Homo sapiens: one gene and its partner. The protein of the gene in region 1 interacts with the protein of each later gene in a pairwise test. Each region holds a gene or a part of one and is shown in the gene's direction. Other genes may lie near its edges.

Evidence for each region. The genes of interacting proteins can lie anywhere in the genome.
Region 2: the proteins of DHCR24 (region 1) and CCR4 interact in a two-hybrid assay, tested with the Homo sapiens proteins (one large-scale study listed by BioGRID and IntAct).

What each region holds. Positions count from the first base shown.
Region 1 is NC_000001.11:54,880,696-54,884,195, reverse strand, and holds part of DHCR24 (delta(24)-sterol reductase precursor), read left to right. Parts: intron 1-422; coding exon 423-578; intron 579-3,500. UniProt on the Homo sapiens protein: Catalyzes the reduction of the delta-24 double bond of sterol intermediates during cholesterol biosynthesis.
Region 2 is NC_000003.12:32,950,189-32,954,443, forward strand, and holds the start of CCR4 (C-C chemokine receptor type 4), read left to right. Parts: upstream 1-1,455; 5' UTR 1,456-1,502; intron 1,503-3,155; exon of another isoform or gene 3,156-3,183; 5' UTR 3,184-3,234; coding exon 3,235-4,255. UniProt on the Homo sapiens protein: High affinity receptor for the C-C type chemokines CCL17/TARC, CCL22/MDC and CKLF isoform 1/CKLF1. The activity of this receptor is mediated by G(i) proteins which activate a phosphatidylinositol-calcium second messenger system.

The sequences.
Region 1 (3,500 bases):
AAAAAAGGGTGTCATCGTAACTTCCTGGGACTGTTGTAGGAATTACACAAGACAGTGTGCAGTAGATGCCTAGTGTGTTGGGAATACCCAGTAAATGGTCCTCATTTTTATACTTGCTATTATCACCATTACAAAACCTTTTCTGAACTTCCCAGCTAGAGTTAATGTTTTCAGAACACTTCGATCCTCTCTTCTAGCTCTTTCATCATTCTGCCTTGTGGTGTAGCAATATGTTGGCTTTTCTGTCAGCCTTGCTGGCCAGGGAGGTGCCAGAGGGTAGGGCCAGCAGGCCTTTTCATTGTTCTGTTTCTCCAGTGCCTGATGGAGGCATCATTCCCAGCTCGCCCTTGAAGAAAGCAGGGCTGCAGGCTGCTCTGGGGATTCCCAGTGGGGCCAGCTCACCCTCTGTCCTGTGGTTGCAGGTGCGGGAATGGAAGGAGCAGGGTAGCAAGACCTTCATGTGCACGGGGCGCCCTGGCTGGCTCACTGTCTCACTACGTGTCGGGAAGTACAAGAAGACACACAAAAACATCATGATCAACCTGATGGACATTCTGGAAGTGGACACCAAGAAACAGGTGAGAGTAGCACTTTTCCGGGCTCTGGGAGCAGGTGGGGCACTGCCCCTGGTGCAAGTGACTCATAGGGAGATGATTTTAGCCAAGGGCATTGCAGAGTGGACAGGACCAATGCCCACAGTCATAGAAGATACTCCCTGCCATTGCTGTCCTCAAGCCTCACAGCCACCAGGGGAGAGATGGGTCATAATAGGTCAGGGGAACCCTTTGCGTTTCCACAGGAAGTCAGGAATGGGGAATTCGTGAGCAAAAATGAGAGGCAAAAAGGAATCTACTTACCCCTTCCTGATAAGGAAGTGTGCTGGTAAAAAATGGGCTACAGAAGTGACTGAGAGACATGGGTCTTGTTACAAGCTTCCTGGAAACCCTCTTGTTTAATAGCCTTCGAAATGTACATACTTTTTGGCCCATCTAGTAATTTTACTTCTCGAAACCTGGCTTAAGGAAAAAGGAAATAGGCTTCAGTATAAAGATACCCAACACAGAGTGATTATATCACAGCTTTATTTCTAATTGACAACAACACAATATCCAATAATAGGGTAGTCATTAAATATGGTATGTCTACTTGATGGCATTTTGTTATTATTGTGAGACCTTGGCCAAGTTACTTAATCTCTCTGTGCCATTTTTTTTAATAGCTTTATTGACGTATTTAAAGTGTGGTAAAACTCTTACCACAATCAAGACAACAAACATACCCATCACACCCCAAAATCTCCTCATGCTCCTTGGTAATCCCTTCCTCTAGCCCCTAGCCCTGCCTCTTCCCCTACCCGCCCCCCACAGCCTTAGGCAAACAATGACCTTTCTGCCACTATAAATTAGTTTGATTCTAGAGTTTATATAAATGGAATCATACAGTACTTTTTGTTTGTCTAGCCTCTTTCACTCAACATCTTTATTTGGAGATTCATCCATGTTGAAAGGTGTGTCAATAGTTCATTCTCTTTCACTGCTGAGTCATATTCCCACACATATTGTGTGGATGTATCACAGCTGGTTTATCCATTCACCTACTGATGGACATTTTGGCTGGCTCCAGTTTGGGGCAATTACAAATAAAATGGAACATTTGTGAACAGTCTTTGTATGGGCACATGCCTTCCTTTCTCTTGGGCAAATATCTAGGAATGGAATGGCTAGATCATAAGGTGGGTGTACATTTAACTTTTTAAGGAAGTGCCAAATTTTTTTTCCAAGTGATTGTAGCATTTTACATTTCCACCAGCAGCGTGAGTGTTGTTCTTGTTCCACATTGTAATAGACTTGATATGGTTAGTCTTAATTTTAGCCATTCTAATAGATGTGTAGTAGTTTTTCATTGTAATTTTAATTCACATTTCCCTAGTGACTAATGATCTTTCCATGTGCATGTTTGCTATTTGTATATCTTCTTTGGTGAGGCCTGATCAAATCTTTTGCCAATTTAAAAAAATTCAGGTGGTTTTCTTATATATTCTGGAAACATCTTTTTTTTTTTTCTTTTAAACTTTTAAATTAAGTGGTACCTGTACAGGTTTGTTATATAGGTAAACGTGTGTCATGGGGTTTGTTGTACATATTATTTCATCACCCAGGTATTAAGCCTAGTACCTATTAGTTATTTTTCCTGATCCTCTCCCTTCTCCCTCCCTCCACCCTCTGATAGGACCCAGTGTCTGTTGTTCCCCTGTATGTGTCCATGTGTTCTCATCATTTAGCTCCCACTTATAAGTGAGAACATGCGGTATTTGGTTTCCTGTTCCTGCATTAGTTTGCTAAGGATAATGGCTTCCAGCTGCATCCATGTTCTTGCAAAGGAACATGGCTGCATAGTATTCCATGGTGTATACGTACCACATTTTCTTTATCCAGTCTACCACTGATGGGCATTTAAGTTGATTCCATGTCTTTGCTATTGTGAGTTGTGCTGCAGTAAACATACACATGCATGTGTCTTTATGATACAATGGTTTATATTCCTTTGGGTATATATACCCAGTAATGAGATTGCTGGGTCAAATGCTGCTTCTGTTTTTTGGTCTTTAAGGAATCACCACACTGTCTCCCACATGGTTGAACTAATTTACACTCCCACCAACAGTGTATAAATGTTCCTTTTTCTCTGCAACTTCACCAGCATCTGTTATTTTTTGACTTTTTAATAATAGCCATTCTGACTGTGTCAGATGGTATTTCATTGTGGTTTTGATTTGCATTTCTTTAATTATCAGTAATGTTGAGCTTTTTTTCATATGCTTCTTGGCCACATGCTTGTCTTTTGAAAAGTGTCTGTTCATGTCCTTTTTATATTCACTTTTTAATGGGGGTTGTTTTGTTCTTGTAAGTTTGTTTAAGTTCCTTATTGATGCTGGATATTAGACCCTGAAACAACATCCTTTATTAGATTCATGATTTGCAAATATTTTCTCACAGTCTGTGGCTTCTCTTTTGAAAACCAGAAGCTTTATTTAGTTTTTCTTTTTGAGACAGAGTTTCACTCTGTCGCCCTGGCTAGAGTGCAGTGGCACGATCTTGGTTCACTGCAGCCTCCGCCTCCCAGGTTCCGGTGATTCTCCTGCCTCAGCCTCCTGGGTAGCTGGGAGTACAGGCATGTGCCACCACACCCAGCTAATTTTTTGTATTTTTAGTAGAGACGGGGTTTCACCATGTTGGCCAGGCTGGTCTCAAACTCTTGACCTCAGGTGATCTGCCTGCCTTGGCCTCCCAAAGTGCTAGAATTACAGGCGTGAGCCACCACGCCTGGCCAAATCAGAAGTTTTAATTTTTCCCAATTTGTTAATTTCTTCTTTTATGCATTGTGGGGGTTTTGTTTGTTTGTTTGTTTGTTTGTTTATATTTTTGTTTTTTGAGACAGAGTCTAGCTCTGTGGCCCCGGCTGGAGTGCAGTGGTGCTATCTCAGTTCTCGGCAACCTCCA
Region 2 (4,255 bases), on another chromosome or scaffold:
AACTCGTGCATTCTCAGTAGAGGCAATATTGCCCCCAAGATAAAACTTGGCTCTTGGAGGGAGAAAAATTTCATACTCATTTTATGTATAAAGCACAGATATACATACACTGTATAAATAGATATATGGTATGTTTGTAGCATTAAAATTTTATGAGGGAGTGTTAGGAAAAAAAGTCTCAAAAGACTCCTTGGGGCAAGTGATAATGAAAAAAAAGAAGGGGTTCCCTAACACCATTCTAGCTCAGTGTTTTAATTTCTATTTATGCCAATTCCTTAGAAAGAATGATCTTTATGGCTCTTTTAAGCTGAATCAAAGAGCTAAGCAACAGTTGAAACACAGGGAAAGCATCTGGAAGTTGCCAAAAAGCTGAGGCTATGAGAGACTTAGGGCTCATGTCAGCCCCTCGCTTATGACTGCTACCCACATCCAAAGTGAAGATCAAGACCTCAGCCAAGACCACTGCCAATGAAGCTCCGCAATCCCCAAGCAGAAGGCGCTTGGGTGAGGGGTCTTCCTGACTCAAAAGGACTTGAAGCTATGTTGCCAGGCCACTTCACACTGGTTTGAGGCCATGTCAACTATTGAATCAAAGAATGTGGTTGGCTGATGCCTTCCAAGTCACTCACAGACACATACATTTGGACAAATTTTTCTCTTCTCTCTTCTTGAATATCCTTTTTCTTGACTATCTCTGGCCTTCCTTCTCACCCTGGCCTCTCAGATCCCAGTTGTCAGGAGAACATTGCACATCTTGATTGCTGGCCCCTGCATATCCATGATGAGAAACTAGCAAACAGGTTGCTGATCCAAAATGTAGAGATCATTGCTACCGCATATGGCCAGTTAAATGGAATTTTTTTTTTTAAACTAAAAAGCGAAAAAGGAGTGGCTGATTCCTGTAATCCCAGTGCTTTAGGAAGCTGAGGTGGGAGGATTGCTTGAGGCCAGTAGTTCAAGATGAGCCTGGGCAATATAGCAAGACCCCTATCTCCCCAAAAATTAAAATTAGTCAGTCATGGTGGCTTGCACCTCTAGTCTCAGCTACTTGGGAGACTAAGGCAGGAGGATCACTTGAGCCCAGGAGTTCAAGGTTACGGTGAGCTATGATTGCACCACTGAACACCAGTCTGGGTGACAGAGTGAGACCCTGTTTCTTTAAAAAAATCTCTTTTTTAAAAACCAACAAATACATTTTTGTATTTTTAAAAAAACTAAAAATCTTTTTTAAAAAGAAAATGACTTCATTTTTTTTCTTAATCTTTTTTTGGCACATCTTCTTGGCCTTCGGTCTTGGGAAATGACTAAGAATCATTTTCTGCTTCCTACTTCTATCAAAAAACCCCACTTGAACTTAGTACAGTTGGGTGAGGGAGATAACTCGTGCTCACAGGAAGCCACGCACCCTTGAAAGGCACCGGGTCCTTCTTAGCATCGTGCTTCCTGAGCAAGCCTGGCATTGCCTCACAGACCTTCCTCAGAGCCGCTTTCAGAAAAGCAAGGTAAGCAGGGACGGGGACATTCCCAGGGTCTTGGGTCGCACACTGCTTTCTGGACCTGGCTGAGATGCTCAGGCCCCTCACGAGTCTAGGGCTTACACTTGGCACCTACCTTGCAGCCCACACACCTTCTACCTGTCCCCACACCCTCTGAGCCCTCATCTGATGGGCACTAATTTATGCAGGACTCTCTTCCTGCACACATCTGGCCTGAGTCCACATGCCCCAAATAAATAGATCATTTTCATAAAAAATATACACTTGTCTGCTTCTTGCTTCTAGCAAGACTCCCAGGCAAGAAATACCACACACGCAAGGCCTACAGAATAATTCCAGACACTTACCAGCTGTGTCTCCTGGCTTTTTGTTCTCCTGATAATTTCCTAACTCCTCAGCCTTGTTTATGCCTTTCATTTTCACTGGTAAAATGGTGGAGAAAGACTAGAATTGTTAGTCATTCAACAAACTTTTTTGGAGACTCTGTGATGTAACAGGTGTTCAGTATCTATTTGCATGAGTAAACCAAAATCTTTTTTCTTTCTTTTTTTCTTTTTCTTTTCTTTCCTTTTTATTTTTTATTTTTTTTGAGACAGGATTTCACTCTGCTGCCCAGGTTGAAGTGCAATGGTGCCATCATAGCTCACTGCGCCTTGAACTCCTGGGCTCAAGGGATCCTCCTGCCTCAGCCTCCTGAGTAGCTGGTACTATCAGCACGTACCACCACACCCAGCTAACTTTTAAAACAATTTTTTGTAGAGACAGGGTCTCCTTATGTTGCTCACGCTGGCATGGAGCTCCTTGGCTCAAGTGATCCTCCCTCCTCGGCCTCCCGACGTGCTGGGATTATAGGCGTGGGCCACTGCACACCTGGCTTCAAAAGCCCTTTCTTGAGAAACACAGTTTGGGCATTGGGTGTGTGGTGGTGGGGGTGTGGGGAGAGATCGAATGTGAATTTACTGACGAATGTGAAAAGGATTTTAACAAGGAATGTGAGGGTCCCACAAAAGCCTCAAGAAGGAAGCAAGGGAGTGGCCTTGAGTCGGAAAGCCCTTCAGCCCTGAATTGCTCTGATACACATGTCAGCATGTGATTAATTTTAAGAAGATTTCAACCTCTTTATCTGCCAATTTAGATAGGAAGTGAAGGTGGTTGGGGAGGTAGAGGTTTTATTTCTGGCTGTGATGTGTGTTTTCTAGATCCATCAGGTGAATTCCCACTCTAATAGGATTCTGTGCGTAGAATTGATTTTTACGTGCAGTTTGATGATGATCATGATCATATAAAATACACCCAATTGAGAATTGTTCAACTGATTTTGTCATCCCTGAAAGTGATTTCAGTAACCCCAGACTATGAAATATCTTTTTGAAACACATCCTCAAAGAACACCTGCTTGAAAGGGGGTTTTACGATCCTCACTTACAAATGAGAGAACTGAAGCTCCTGGCAGAGAGGTAAGAAAATTAGTGAGTGCCCAAGCTGGAATCTGAAACAAATCTTTCTGCCTCCAAAGCCCAAAATTATTTCGTCTGGCTGCAGGGCCCTGTGAGTAATCGAGCCCTTCATCTTGGGAAAGGCATATACAGACCTGGAGCAAAACAGTACGCAGCCATGCTCTGCATTTAGCAATACTTTGGTTTATTTTTGTTCTCACAGAAATCTCCTTTGCTCTTCCCCTCATTAGCTGCTTCTGGTTGGGCCCAGACCTGCCTTGAGGAGCCTGTAGAGTTAAAAAATGAACCCCACGGATATAGCAGACACCACCCTCGATGAAAGCATATACAGCAATTACTATCTGTATGAAAGTATCCCCAAGCCTTGCACCAAAGAAGGCATCAAGGCATTTGGGGAGCTCTTCCTGCCCCCACTGTATTCCTTGGTTTTTGTATTTGGTCTGCTTGGAAATTCTGTGGTGGTTCTGGTCCTGTTCAAATACAAGCGGCTCAGGTCCATGACTGATGTGTACCTGCTCAACCTTGCCATCTCGGATCTGCTCTTCGTGTTTTCCCTCCCTTTTTGGGGCTACTATGCAGCAGACCAGTGGGTTTTTGGGCTAGGTCTGTGCAAGATGATTTCCTGGATGTACTTGGTGGGCTTTTACAGTGGCATATTCTTTGTCATGCTCATGAGCATTGATAGATACCTGGCAATTGTGCACGCGGTGTTTTCCTTGAGGGCAAGGACCTTGACTTATGGGGTCATCACCAGTTTGGCTACATGGTCAGTGGCTGTGTTCGCCTCCCTTCCTGGCTTTCTGTTCAGCACTTGTTATACTGAGCGCAACCATACCTACTGCAAAACCAAGTACTCTCTCAACTCCACGACGTGGAAGGTTCTCAGCTCCCTGGAAATCAACATTCTCGGATTGGTGATCCCCTTAGGGATCATGCTGTTTTGCTACTCCATGATCATCAGGACCTTGCAGCATTGTAAAAATGAGAAGAAGAACAAGGCGGTGAAGATGATCTTTGCCGTGGTGGTCCTCTTCCTTGGGTTCTGGACACCTTACAACATAGTGCTCTTCCTAGAGACCCTGGTGGAGCTAGAAGTCCTTCAGGACTGCACCTTTGAAAGATACTTGGACTATGCCATCCAGGCCACAGAAACTCTGGCTTTTGTTCACTGCTGCCTTAATCCCATCATCTACTTTTTTCTGGGGGAGAAATTTCGCAAGTACATCCTACAGCTCTTCAAAACCTGCAGGGGCCTTTTTGTGCTCTGCCAATACTGTGGGCTCCTCCAAATTTACTCTGCTG